Homo sapiens: one gene and its partners. The protein of the gene in region 1 purifies or fractionates together with the protein of each later gene. This does not show direct contact. Each region holds a gene or a part of one and is shown in the gene's direction. Other genes may lie near its edges.

Region 1 (3,640 bases):
AGAGGAGTGTGAACCAAGGAAGATTAACAGAGGAAGGAACATTAACTGGATTTTTAAAAGAAGACCAGTGGTTTCTAGGTAGAGAAGATAGGAAAAGATATTCCAGGCTTTGGGTATAGTATGTGCAAACACCTGGAGGCTTGAGAAGCCGTGATGAGTTTTGAGAGATCTGCATCTGTATTCATTCCAGGTTCAGTGTGACATCTGGCAGAGATGTCATTTCAATTATTTATTTTTATTATTTTATAGATGGAGAATAGAGGCTATTTTCTGGCAGGAAACACCAGCTAATGGACTCCATGTGTCATATCAAAGAATTTGGACCTTTTCAATTATTTATTTTTATTTTTTTGAGACAGGGTCTTACTTTTTCACTTAGGCTGCAGTGTAGTGGCATGATCTCAGCTCACTAGACCCTCCGCCTCCCAGGCTCAAGTGATCCTCCCACTTCAGCCTCCTGAGTAGCTGGGACTGGCACACACTGCCATGCCCAGTTAATTTCTGTATTTTATTTTATTTTTTTGTAAAGGTGGGGTTTCGCCATGTTGCCCAGGCTGGTCTTGAACTCGGAGGCTCAAGCAATCCATCCACCTCTGCCTCCCAAAGTGCTGGGATTTTAGGGTGTGAGTACACTGTGCCCGGACTAGAGAAACACTTTTTAGGAGGAAATATCTTACAGTGTAGTGTAAGGATTTTACAAAGTGGCTAGAAATGTAGAGACCAGTTCCCGAATAATCCGGATGAGAGTTTATGCAAGACTAAATTTAGGCCCTGGTATAGAAGATGAAAGGAAGGGATGGATTTGAGTCATATTTAGAAGATGATCAAAAACACCTGGTAATCGGTGAGGGGCAGGAGGAGAAGGGTAATTGATGGCATTTAGAATTTCTGGCTTGAGTGACTACATTGATGCTATCAACAGAGTTAGGAAATACCAAATATGTGGAGTCTGGATTTTGTGTTTGGTTTTGAACATAAGGCATTGCATAGGTGAATGTGTCTGGTAGGTGGTAGGAAATGCACCTCTGGCCTTGAGAGTTCTGGACTGGGGATACAGGTTTGGGAGTCATCATCACTTTATGGGGTGGTACCTGTGAAATATAGGTGAGGTCACCCAGGAGAGTTTGTAGGAGAGCTGAGGAAAGGCTGTAGCCTTAGAGGGGTGGCAGAGAAAAATAATATATTGAAGGTGTCTGAGAAGAAACAAAGCGGTATGAGGAAGTTCTTTTCATAGGAACGAAAAGTTTCAAGAGATGATCTCTATCATCAGCTGCCTCCATTCTTGTTCCTGTTTGCTCTAACTGCAATGAGGAAGATGAATTCATTCTCCAAAAAATATAAATCTGAAGTTTTGTGTCATTTCTCCTTTATTTCCTTTGTCTGTAGAATAAAGTCTTAGAATAATATTCCTGTTAAGGCCCTGCTTATCCCAATACCGTATCCATACTGAACTTTCAGTTCTTTATATGCACTCTACTCTCTGTCTTTCAGATTTTTGCAGGTATTCCTTTAGAACACTCTTTCTCTTCCATCTTATCGCCTACTCTTTGGGTTTCTGTTTAAACATTACATTTCTCGGTGGGGGGGCTTTTCTGTCCCTTAGAGTAGGTCACACCTAGCAGCTGTATGTTTTCAAAGCTCCATGTACATTTTTTATCATGATACTCATCATTTATCACTTCTCATTTTTGCTTGTCTTCCTGGTAGACTAAAACTGCATGAGAACAGAGATCTTATGTTTACTGTTGAAACACCTGTACTAGTATATTGCCTAGTATATAGTATGTGGTCAATAAATATGCCTTGAAGGAGTAAGCAGCATAGTGGTCATGTAAGCAAGGAGTTGGAAGGGTTCATTAAGAGTAGAGTTGAGGTATGATTGGTAAGTGAGGAAGTAGAGGGAATGTAGCCTGCTCTCTGAAGCAGCTTAGCTATGACAGGAAAGAGAAATGAGGCACACAAATGTTTCTTCTTGTTTCAGGGTTTTACTTTCATCAAGACTGAGTGATTACAGCATTCAGTTACCATTCTTTAAGTTTGTCGTATCACCCAAGTGTCTAAGACGATTGCTGAGTTTAGAGATGGAATTCTACAGAGAAGGAAATCAAGACAAAGAATTTGGGAGGAATTGAGAATTCAGAAAGCAGATAAAAGGAAAAAACATAGGATGGATTTTTAGGGACTAGAGTAGGGGATAAATGTAAAAACCTCCCTCCCTTTCTGATCTGGAGCCTTGTTTGTTTATTTCCAGTCCTAGTTGTTCCACTGCGAGCATGGTTAGAGTGAGGCATGTTAATGAATGGGAGCTGGGATGGAGAACTGGGAGGACAGGATGCAAAGGAGTATTTAACATTCAACAAATACTTATAGAAGGCCTCCTATGGGGCAGACACTGTTGTGGTGCCTTGTGATACATCTAGTGAACAAAGCGGACAAAGATTCCTCCCCTCATGGAACTCAAATTTTAGTGGGGGGAGAGAGACAACAAACATAATAAACACATTGTATAATACGTTACAAGGAGATTAAAGGTATAGAAAGAAGAAAAGGTTGAATGGTTAAGGAGGATCAGGAATGCCTGAATGGAGTGAAGAAGGCAGGTTGGGGAATTATATAAGGATGGTCAGGGTAGGCCTCATTGAAAAGGTTAGATTTGAACAGACTTGAAGGGCATTAGGGAGTTAACCAAGTGGATAACTGGGTAATCAAAGGAAGTCTTAAATCTCTTTCTTATTGAGTCACCGGAACCTGTGTCTGTAGCTGAATTCTAAGCTTAGGGGCAGGCATATTATCTAAGACACAAGCATGGCCATCACCATGCCTTATTGACTGGTGCAGGACCACAGGTCATTGTGATTTTTATTTATTTATGATTTTTTTTTTTGAGACAGAGTTTCGCTCTTGTTGCCCAGGCTGGAGTGCAATGGTGTGATCTCAGCTCACCGCAACCTCCACCTCCCAGGTTCAAGCGATTCTCCTGCCTCAGCCTCCCTAGTAGCTGGGATTACAGGCATGGGCCACCACGCCCGGCTAATTTTGTATTTTTAGTAGAGATGGGATGTCTCCATGTTGGTCAGGCTGGTCTCGAACTCCCGACCTCAGGTGATCCACCCGCCTCAGCCTCCCAAAGTGCTGGGATTACAGGTGTGAGCCACTGCGCCCAGCCCATTGTGATTTTTAATTAAGTTCAGCAGTTGGTTGTAGGTTACCAAGTCTTATGTTATTTTTTTAAGCATGAATTTGTAAGCAAAGAAAATGTAGCTGTTTCTTATGTCTTCTCTCCACCAGTATACTTTGATCTTTAAATATTAAGAGTCTAGTCCAATGCCTAAAAATCTGAAGGTAATAAAAAATAGATGTATGTGATGTTATTTCTCTGACATTTGATATCAAAACATCACCTACTTTCTTATTTTTTGATAGTAACACAGCTGAACTATATGAATATACTGTCCTTTTTGTGTCCTGTGTCTGACATTATGAGAGACTCTTGGTTTTCATATTTGAGTGAGAGAGTGAATAACTTGGAAAAATAGCTTAACAGTAGAAAATAAGAGAGGAAGGATTGTCCTTCAAAAACTTTAAATTATATTTCTTATTAAATAAATGTTATGTTAAATGTTGTATAAGGTCACTGCGA
Region 2 (4,425 bases), about 50 Mb from region 1:
AAAAGGGCCTGAGGGTACCACTCTTCAAGGCAGAGCGGCCACCTGATGAGCCCTTCCCTGGGACTCTGGTCCCAATTTGGTTACTGGGACAACGCTGTCTCCCATTAGACACGCTTTGAAGGAAGACCCTGGAGTGACCGGCTCAGTCATGCTGGGAAGGATTCAGCTGTCTAGCTTTCAAATGCCTTTTTTTTTTTTTTTGGCTTTTTTATTTCTTTTGGAAAGATAAGAGTTGATGCTTTTACCCTAAAACTGTGTGCCAAGCCGCTCTGGCTATCCTCAGCCCCACTCTTCCCCTATCTCTGTAGCCCTCCTTTCCGTCCTTCATAGGCTGCAAGCTGACTGGCGCCCGACCCCAGGTCCACACCCACCTCCCTCTACCCCCTGGTCCATGCACCACTCCCGGCCTCCTCCCCCACTCTTCTCTTTCTGGCCCCGCTGCAGAGTCTCGGGCCCCTCGGCTTCCTGGGCGCCTGGCCACCACGCAGCGCCTGGAAGTGCTCCCTCCCTCATCTCTCGTTCCCCACTTTGGAAAGCCGGCCACCGGACAGGACAGCTCCCGGGACAGCTCCCGCAGCCTGCTGCATTGCAGCGCAGCCGTCTGTGAGGGAGGGGCGCAACCTGCAGCCCCCGCCCCCCGCCCCGACCACCCCCGCCCAGCAGCCCCCAGCCCCGGCACGGCCGGCTCCCCCGCCGCACCGCACGCATCTGTCGCAGTTAAAAGCGCCGCTGCCAGAGCAAAAGCGCCGGTCCCTCTTGACTGTCCCCCTCCTCACTTTTCGGGCTCAGAAATGTGGCCCAGGCAGCCCCCTTGTGGCACGTGGGGGCGCCACAGACTCTTGGCTGGTGTCTGAAGAATTCAGACTGTCTGATTCCACCGCACCGTGAGTTGGCACAAATCTTCGGTGGCCCAACTCCTACCCGATGCAGAACTCTGCTCAGCGGCCTCTCTGAGTGGGGGGCACCTCTCCCCTCCCCTCTCCCCGTCCACACCTCTCCCTTCTCCCTCCAGGGAGGAAGCGAAGGAACTCTCCTGTTGAATATTGCTCTGACAAGCAGACAGGTGTCTGGCAAACGTGATTGGGGTGGTGGGGGAAGGGGGGGGCCAGGAGGGTGGTGGGAATGGGGGCTTTTCTCGAAATGACGTTTGGTTTCCATCTCTTATCTCACAGATGGGAAACCGAGGTGCGGGGAGGGCCATAGTCCCTGTCTGTGTCAGAGTCAAGGCTGGAGATCCTCCTCCAAGTCCAGCCTGGGGCATTTCCCTGAGGTGCCGGGGCACCCTTAAGACGTACCCCTCTTCCCCCTCCCACTTGTCCAGCCCCTCCAGATCTGGTTCTCCCCGTCCGGAAGCCCTGGAGGGCCCCTGGATGTTCTCTGTCCTCTCTAACTCACTGTCCACACAAACAAGCCCAGCCCCCTCCGTCTCTATCTGCAATCTACTTGCAGACAGGCAGGGCCCTCTCCACATCAGGTTAATAATGCCATTTTCATAAGCCTCTGCCCATAGGTGCTACCACCTAATTTTGAATCTGCCCTTCAAACGGATTGGGCCACAGAGGAGCTGGGATCTCAAGCACCGCTGGGAGGTGCTTATAACTAATCAATCCGTCCCCTGCCCACCCACACCCCCCCAGCACTCGGCACAGCCTCGCTGAGCAGCCTTCAGCAGCAGGGTGTGGTGGGGAGCCTCGGAGAGTCTGGGGTTCCATCCTGGCCCAGCCTCACACCAGCTGAGAGACGGTGAGTATAGGACTTTGCCTTTCTGTGCCTCAGTTTCCTCATCAATCTAATGGGGCTCATGAGACCAGTGTGCAGGGTTATTGCCCGGGTGAGTTCTTTGCAGACAGCCCAGTTCGGGACTTGGCTCCAAGACGGGGCTCCATAAATCTCCATGCCTGCACCCCCTCTTGATCACCTCAATTTCCAGTGTCTTATTCCCTGTTTGTTTCCCCCACCAGACCGACTGAGCTTCGAGGACAGGAAGCCACCGGCATCACTAAGCCACCGGCATCACTTCATCCCCAGCCTCACGCTTGGGACTGGGCCCGGGGAAGGTAGGTACACTGTGGTGGCTTGGAGAATGAGTGCATGGATGGATGTCTGTCCCATAGTCTATGGGATGCCCGGACCCCGCTGAGTTTCTCCTCCCCAGACCCCTGTCTAAGCTGGCCCTTCAAGGAAGCCGCCGGGAAAAACTGTTCCTTTATGCCTTCATGCTTTACCCCTCGTGCTGTTATATACAATGCAAATTCTCGGTCTATTAAATGCAGATGTGGGCTCTGCATGTCATTTATGCTGCCTGCTGCATCTACTGTGAGTTCCACAGGCCGGGGGCTGCCTCCGGCTGACTTGATTTGTGCGATTAAGCCAGCAGAGGGGACTCTGCCAGGAGAGGTTCCCGTTTGTATTGGGAGCAGGGTCTTGAAAGGCCAGGCTGTTTTCTCTCTTGCGACACTTGTTACATACCTCTCTCTCCCTCCCTGGGTCCCACCGTCTACTCCACAAGCATTTATGAAGTGTCTGATGTGTGCAAGCCTACACTTATCTCATTTAGTCCTCACTTCACGCCAGTGACGGAGAAACTCTCATCTCCATTTCACAGGGGAAAAGCCGAGTCTGAAAAGTAAAGGGAATTGTCTTGCAGCTAGAGAGCAGGGAGTCAAGCCGGTCTGCCTGGCTCGGGAGCCCCCAGCCCTGCTGTGGCTGCCTACTGCTGCTGCTGCTGCTGCTGCTGCTACTGCAGGGCTGACCAGGGCTGGCCGGGAGGCCAGCAGCTCCTGCAGAAAAGGCAGGGGGCTGCATACAGAGCGTTCTCCCTAGCAACTGGAAAAGGGGCCATAGAAAACCCAAGAGGGCTGAGAAGCCGCTCAACAGATAGACATGGAGCAGCTGGCCCCAGGAGGGGAGCACCACGCCCTCCCCTGGGCTTTTAGCAGAACAGCAGGGCAAAGGGCTCTGTCCCAGGTCTAAAAGAACAGAGACAGAGGTGTTAGGACAGGTGTAGAGGCGCCCAATCCTGTTCCCACCATTGGTGGGGGTATTGCCATTCAGCACAGAAAGGAGAGGACTGAAAAGAGAGGGAGCCCACAGCCTGCAGAGATCGGAGGGCAGAGGGGGCAAGGGGGCTGCTGCACAGCCGAGGAGGCAGATGCAAAAGGCAGGGGAGGGCTCAGCAAAGCAGCTCTGCGTGCGAGCCCTGAGCAGGCTGCCTGGGGAGAGAGGGAGCTCCCTGTTACAGGAGGCATCCGAGGGGAGAGAGGCAGGCCAGTGCTTGGCTGAGAAGGCTGCAGCACGGTTTCCTGCCCAGGCTGGCAGCCCACATGTTTAGGCCTTTGAGAAGCTCCCACAGCACCAACTCCTGAGCAGGCAAGCGGGCAAGTGAGCGAGGTGGCCAGAGGGGACCAGGCAGGGGTCAGTATGAGGCCATTTGGCCTCTCCCGAGTAGCTTGCCCTGGGCTAAATGGCAAAGGCACAGAGATGGTTGGCGGGGTGCCTCTGTCCCAATAAGGCAATGAGGGAGAGGAGCAGAGAATGGGGTTGAGTGCCCAGGGCTGGTGGGGGGAGGTGGGGACTGTCCTGCTGCCAACTCCCCTCTTGAGGGCCAGAACACCTAGAGTGGCCAAGCACCTGCCCTGGCTCCTGAGCCCACAGAGGCTGGCCTGTGTCCTCTCTGGGGCAACAGGCTGGCAGAGTGAGTGGAAGGAGCGAGGAGGTCTGGCAGGTTGAGGGGCCCTTTTCTGGAGGCTGAGCAGCAACCACAGATGCAGCCAGCTGCCAGACTGTGACTTACATGTTCAGTGGACTCATGAAAGCTCCTCACACAGTGACAGGGCTGGGGTGCCGGCCTGCTGATGAATGCAGCCCACACGGGAGTCGGGAGCTGCCTCTCCTGGCCCATTCACAGGGGTTCAGTTCCCAGGAACTGTGGGACCTTTATCAGGGGACCTCTGCTAGACAAGGCTCTGTTCTGCAGTTTCCAAAGGAGTTTTCTGCCTTATGCTCCCAGTGCAGGCACTCAGCATGTGTGTGTGCGCGCATGTCTGTGCGTGTGCGTGTGTGCATATGGGGGATGGCTGCGAGGCCAGCCAGGGCTCCTTGTCTGTGAAATGCCCAAGGTCCTCGGGGGCAGAGATGCACCTCCATGGAGCAGAAAAATTTCAAGGAGGGCAGAGTCATTCAAGGATGGAGCCCATCCTCACTGCAGCCTCATTGTCCTGCTCCTGACAACCCAATCTGTCAGCCCTGGGGTCGCCACAGCTGCTCCGACCCGCCGTGGGGGGGCAGCATCGTGTTGCAGGTGGAGTGCGCAGGCTGGTTTGCCTTCCTGGCTAACAGACAGACAGACGGCCCTGGCAGCTCAGTTAGGCACTGCAAGCCCTTCGGGAAAAACTGTTTGTTTCTCGGGAGCCTCTGTTTTTGTTG
Region 3 (3,640 bases), on another chromosome or scaffold:
GACTTAAGAGCAAAAGCAGAGACAGAGCCAGAGAGAATGAGTCCAGGGAAGTGGTGCCCATTCCACAGGGTTACTATAGAATTGACATGAAATAATGTTTTCCAAGTTTTTGTCTGAGTGTCTGGTGCAGAATATGGAAGTGTTCAATAGATGTTGACTTTAAAAACTCTGGATAGATAAGAAATATAGAGCAAGGTTCCTAAGGCAACAAATAGATGGAATCTGGGGAACAAATAGAAAGTCGGTTGAAAGGATGCTTTCTCCATGGAAATGAGAGGGCATGACACAGCGATGGGGTGAATGCAAACAGAAGTCTTAGTGAGGGAAACAGGAGACTGAGGACACATGGCCACATGTCCTCTAGTGTCTCTGTGAGGTGGACATGGTTATCTCCTGAGAAAAAAAGAGTGGATTTAGGGCAGCACTGTGTAGAGCAGGAGAAAGGCTAGGAATGGCTGTCAGGTCAATGAGAGAGATCTTGACATGGATGTGTTATGTGCGAGACCTAGTTGAGTCTAGAAATCATGATTGCATGCCTGTGTATTGGCACCAATGCACACGATTTGGTGATTATTTTCCAAAGCAAAACTGTTTTGCGTTTTGGTAGTGGAACCAGAGAAGTTGTGTGCGTACAAGCAGAAAATGGGAACAGTTCAAGAGATTGAGGGTTGGGATTCTATCTGAAAGAGATGGATAACAATGGAGGAGTTGAGATGAGGGTCATGGGATCCAAGTTGGAGGGAAGAAAGCATAGAGAGGAATGGTCAGATAGACAGGAAAAGCATAGCAGGGCAAATAAGTGGACTGCAGGCTTTAATGAAGTGGGTGGAGCATATATATATATATATATATGTTCAAATATATATACTGTATGTGTATGTGTATATATATATGTGTGTGTGTATATATATACACAGTAGAAGAAGTGAGTGGAAAAAGTAGAAAAATGTAACATGATCGGAGTGGGAAACTGAAGATGGAGATTTCAGAGGGGGAGCAGTAGTTCCCTATGATAACAAGAACTAGAATATAATTATGAGAACAGAAAAGTGGTTGCCGTGGAAGTAGCAAAGCTGGAATTGAGAAGTGATGTCCAGGAACCATGAGATTCAAGTATTGCTAGTTGAATAAGGCACACTGGGTTGAGGGGAAGATCTTGAGCCAGTGGTCATAGTTGGGACATCCTGAGGATCTTTCCCTGGGAAGTCACATTTACGTCTGTATGCCTTCTGCTGTCTCCAAGTACTGGCATTCTGCCTTGATCACCTCATTAATAGTACTATGCTTCAAGTTTAGTATCATTAGGGAAAGCTAGTTAATCAGTGTTGCATTAGTTAAGTAAGATGGCAACTCTCAACTCTACATGAGCAAATGACTTCACCTGTCTTGACCAATGAAGTTCTGTCTTTTAATACTCAGATCAGTTATTTGACAAGTAGATGTATTGTTTCTTTGTTTATTTTTGTTTTATTATTTTAATTTACTTGCCCAGGAACCCGATTCAATACAGGTGAACCTGTTCCCCTAAAGCCCTAGTAGTTAGTTTATACTCAGAGGAGACTATTCCTTGCCTAAGGGCATCTGGAATTTAAAATAGTGCAGTGCATTCAGTCATTCTCATCTTTCACAATCTCAAAAACATGATTTCCTGATCAATGCCCTCAACATATGTTTTATTTCTTTTTTCTTTTTTTCTTTTTCTTTTTTTTTTTTTTTTGAGATGGAGACTTGCTCTGTCGCCCAGGCAGGAGCGCAGTGGCGCAATCTCACCTCACTGCAAGCTCTGCCTCCCAGGTTCACGCCATTCTCCTACCTCAGCCTCCCGAGTAGCTGGGACTACAGGCACCCGCCACCACGCCCGGCTAATTTTTTGTATTTTTAGTAGAGACGGGGTTTCACCGTGTTAGCCAGGATGGTCTTGATCTCCTGACCTCGTGATCCGCCCGCCTCGGCCTCCTAAAGTGCTGGGATTACATGTGTGAGCCACCGCGCCCGGCCTCAACACATGTTTTCTAAATCATCTTGGAAATGGGAACTTTGCACTCTGGATCGGCTTCCTTTTCCGAAGCCCCTTTGTGGTAGTGAGGTGCATCTTTTGCACACCTGTGTCTCGCATGAGGCTCCCAGACCTTCTAGAACAAGAGAAAGAAGATCCGTAAAGGGGCATCTGTGAAGGAGATAGAAGGGTCAGATGACCGATGGCTCCCCCAGCATTCCTTCTTAGCTCCTTTTAGCCATTTGTTTACCCTTTACTGTGCTAAATATAGCTATTCTGGATGTATGGAAATAATAAAAATTATTATAATATAAATCTGTGTATATATATATAAAATACCTGTGTGCTATTCCATACGTACGTGTATGTGTGTGTGCTTAATCTTCCTTAAATTAAACCATGCATTCTCGCTTGACCCAAGGACAGCCCATGTTAAGCACTGAATGCCCTTTTGGGTTGCGTGTGCTCCAGTACCCACTGTCTTGCACACTTGATTTTCATCATGCATGAAAGGACCACAGGGTCCTTTTCTGAGCCATCGTAGTCTTAAACCTTGAAGTGCATGAACACAGAAGCACGCTTCTGCCTACCTCTGGTGTTCAGCACCAGAAATTCTGTGTCTAACACCTGTTTTCAATCTTCTGCTCCATTTCTCAAATCTTATTATATCTCTGCCTTTTCACACTTTGTAGTCTCTCTCTAATATTTGTTTGCAAACACTAACTCATTTGTATTTCTATAATTACCGTGATTTTTTGTCTTCTCGTCTGTAGTGGCTCCCCCTTTTCTGGCAGCATCTCTGTAACTCCTGTTCTTCCATATAATGGCACAACAGGAGAGATGATCTTTTAGTGTAAGCAGGACGGGGCAGGTTTTCTTCATAGTCAGGATATGATTGTGTGTCCAGAGCCATAACGTTATCTTTCTCATAAGTAGTCTCCAGATTCTTGACTTAATGGGTTCTAAGGATTCCCGGTTTTAAGTATGAGTATCTTGTCCTCTATACTCTTTCATTCTACTTCATGATTTGATAACATTGTGTTTCAAGGTCTGACAAAGGACATCTTAAAGGAATTTGTTTATCCACATGATCTGCCTTTATAGTGTGAGAAATTATATTTATCAGATAAGAAACATAGGCAAAAATTTTGGAAAATGCCCAGAAAATATCAGGGAGAAAGTGTTTCCTAAAACCTCCTATACCGTGATACTTCTTTGCAGTTGTGGATCAAGGTTTGTCACCCTAAGCTTCAGTATTGTGTGTGCATTCTGTCAAATCTTTGTCTTTTTATGTGATAATATAACTTATCTTAGATAATTCCCCTAAACTGAGTGTGTTCCAAAAGTAACTGCAGATCAGAACTTCAGGATAGTATACAAATTTCAATGAGGCAAAAAATCATAGTGGCACAAAAGTCATTACATGCACTTATAGGACAGGCATGGTTCTTCTCTGCTAGTGCTTGCATTCCTTTGACCTGCAGATACAAAGTCTATTCTTCCATTATAATTTATTTTAAAATATGTGTTCTCAGAGGGCAGGGCTTTGTGCTTGAGTTTTTTTTGTGTGTGTAGTACCCCACGTTTTGCTCACTGTAGTAGTTATTAAATATGACTCATGTACTAGGACACCAAGAAATGCTT

What was found. The genes of interacting proteins can lie anywhere in the genome.
Region 2: the proteins of MAP4K5 (region 1) and RTL1 purify together in Homo sapiens (affinity purification with mass spectrometry, with the first as the bait; one large-scale study listed by BioGRID). This does not show direct contact.
Region 3: the proteins of MAP4K5 (region 1) and PTER purify together in Homo sapiens (affinity purification with mass spectrometry, with the first as the bait; one large-scale study listed by BioGRID). This does not show direct contact.

Annotation. Positions count from the first base shown.
Region 1 is NC_000014.9:50,522,556-50,526,195, reverse strand, and holds part of MAP4K5 (mitogen-activated protein kinase kinase kinase kinase 5), read left to right. Parts: intron 1-3,640. UniProt on the Homo sapiens protein: May play a role in the response to environmental stress. Appears to act upstream of the JUN N-terminal pathway.
Region 2 is NC_000014.9:100,900,923-100,905,347, reverse strand, and holds the start of RTL1 (retrotransposon-like protein 1), read left to right. Parts: upstream 1-1,625; 5' UTR 1,626-1,743; intron 1,744-1,961; 5' UTR 1,962-2,057; intron 2,058-4,425. UniProt on the Homo sapiens protein: Plays an essential role in capillaries endothelial cells for the maintenance of feto-maternal interface and for development of the placenta.
Region 3 is NC_000010.11:16,506,370-16,510,009, forward strand, and holds part of PTER (N-acetyltaurine hydrolase), read left to right. Parts: intron 1-3,640. UniProt on the Homo sapiens protein: N-acetyltaurine hydrolase that regulates feeding by catalyzing the hydrolysis of N-acetyltaurine into taurine and acetate. N-acetyltaurine has anorexigenic and anti-obesity effects that are dependent on GFRAL receptor and GDF15.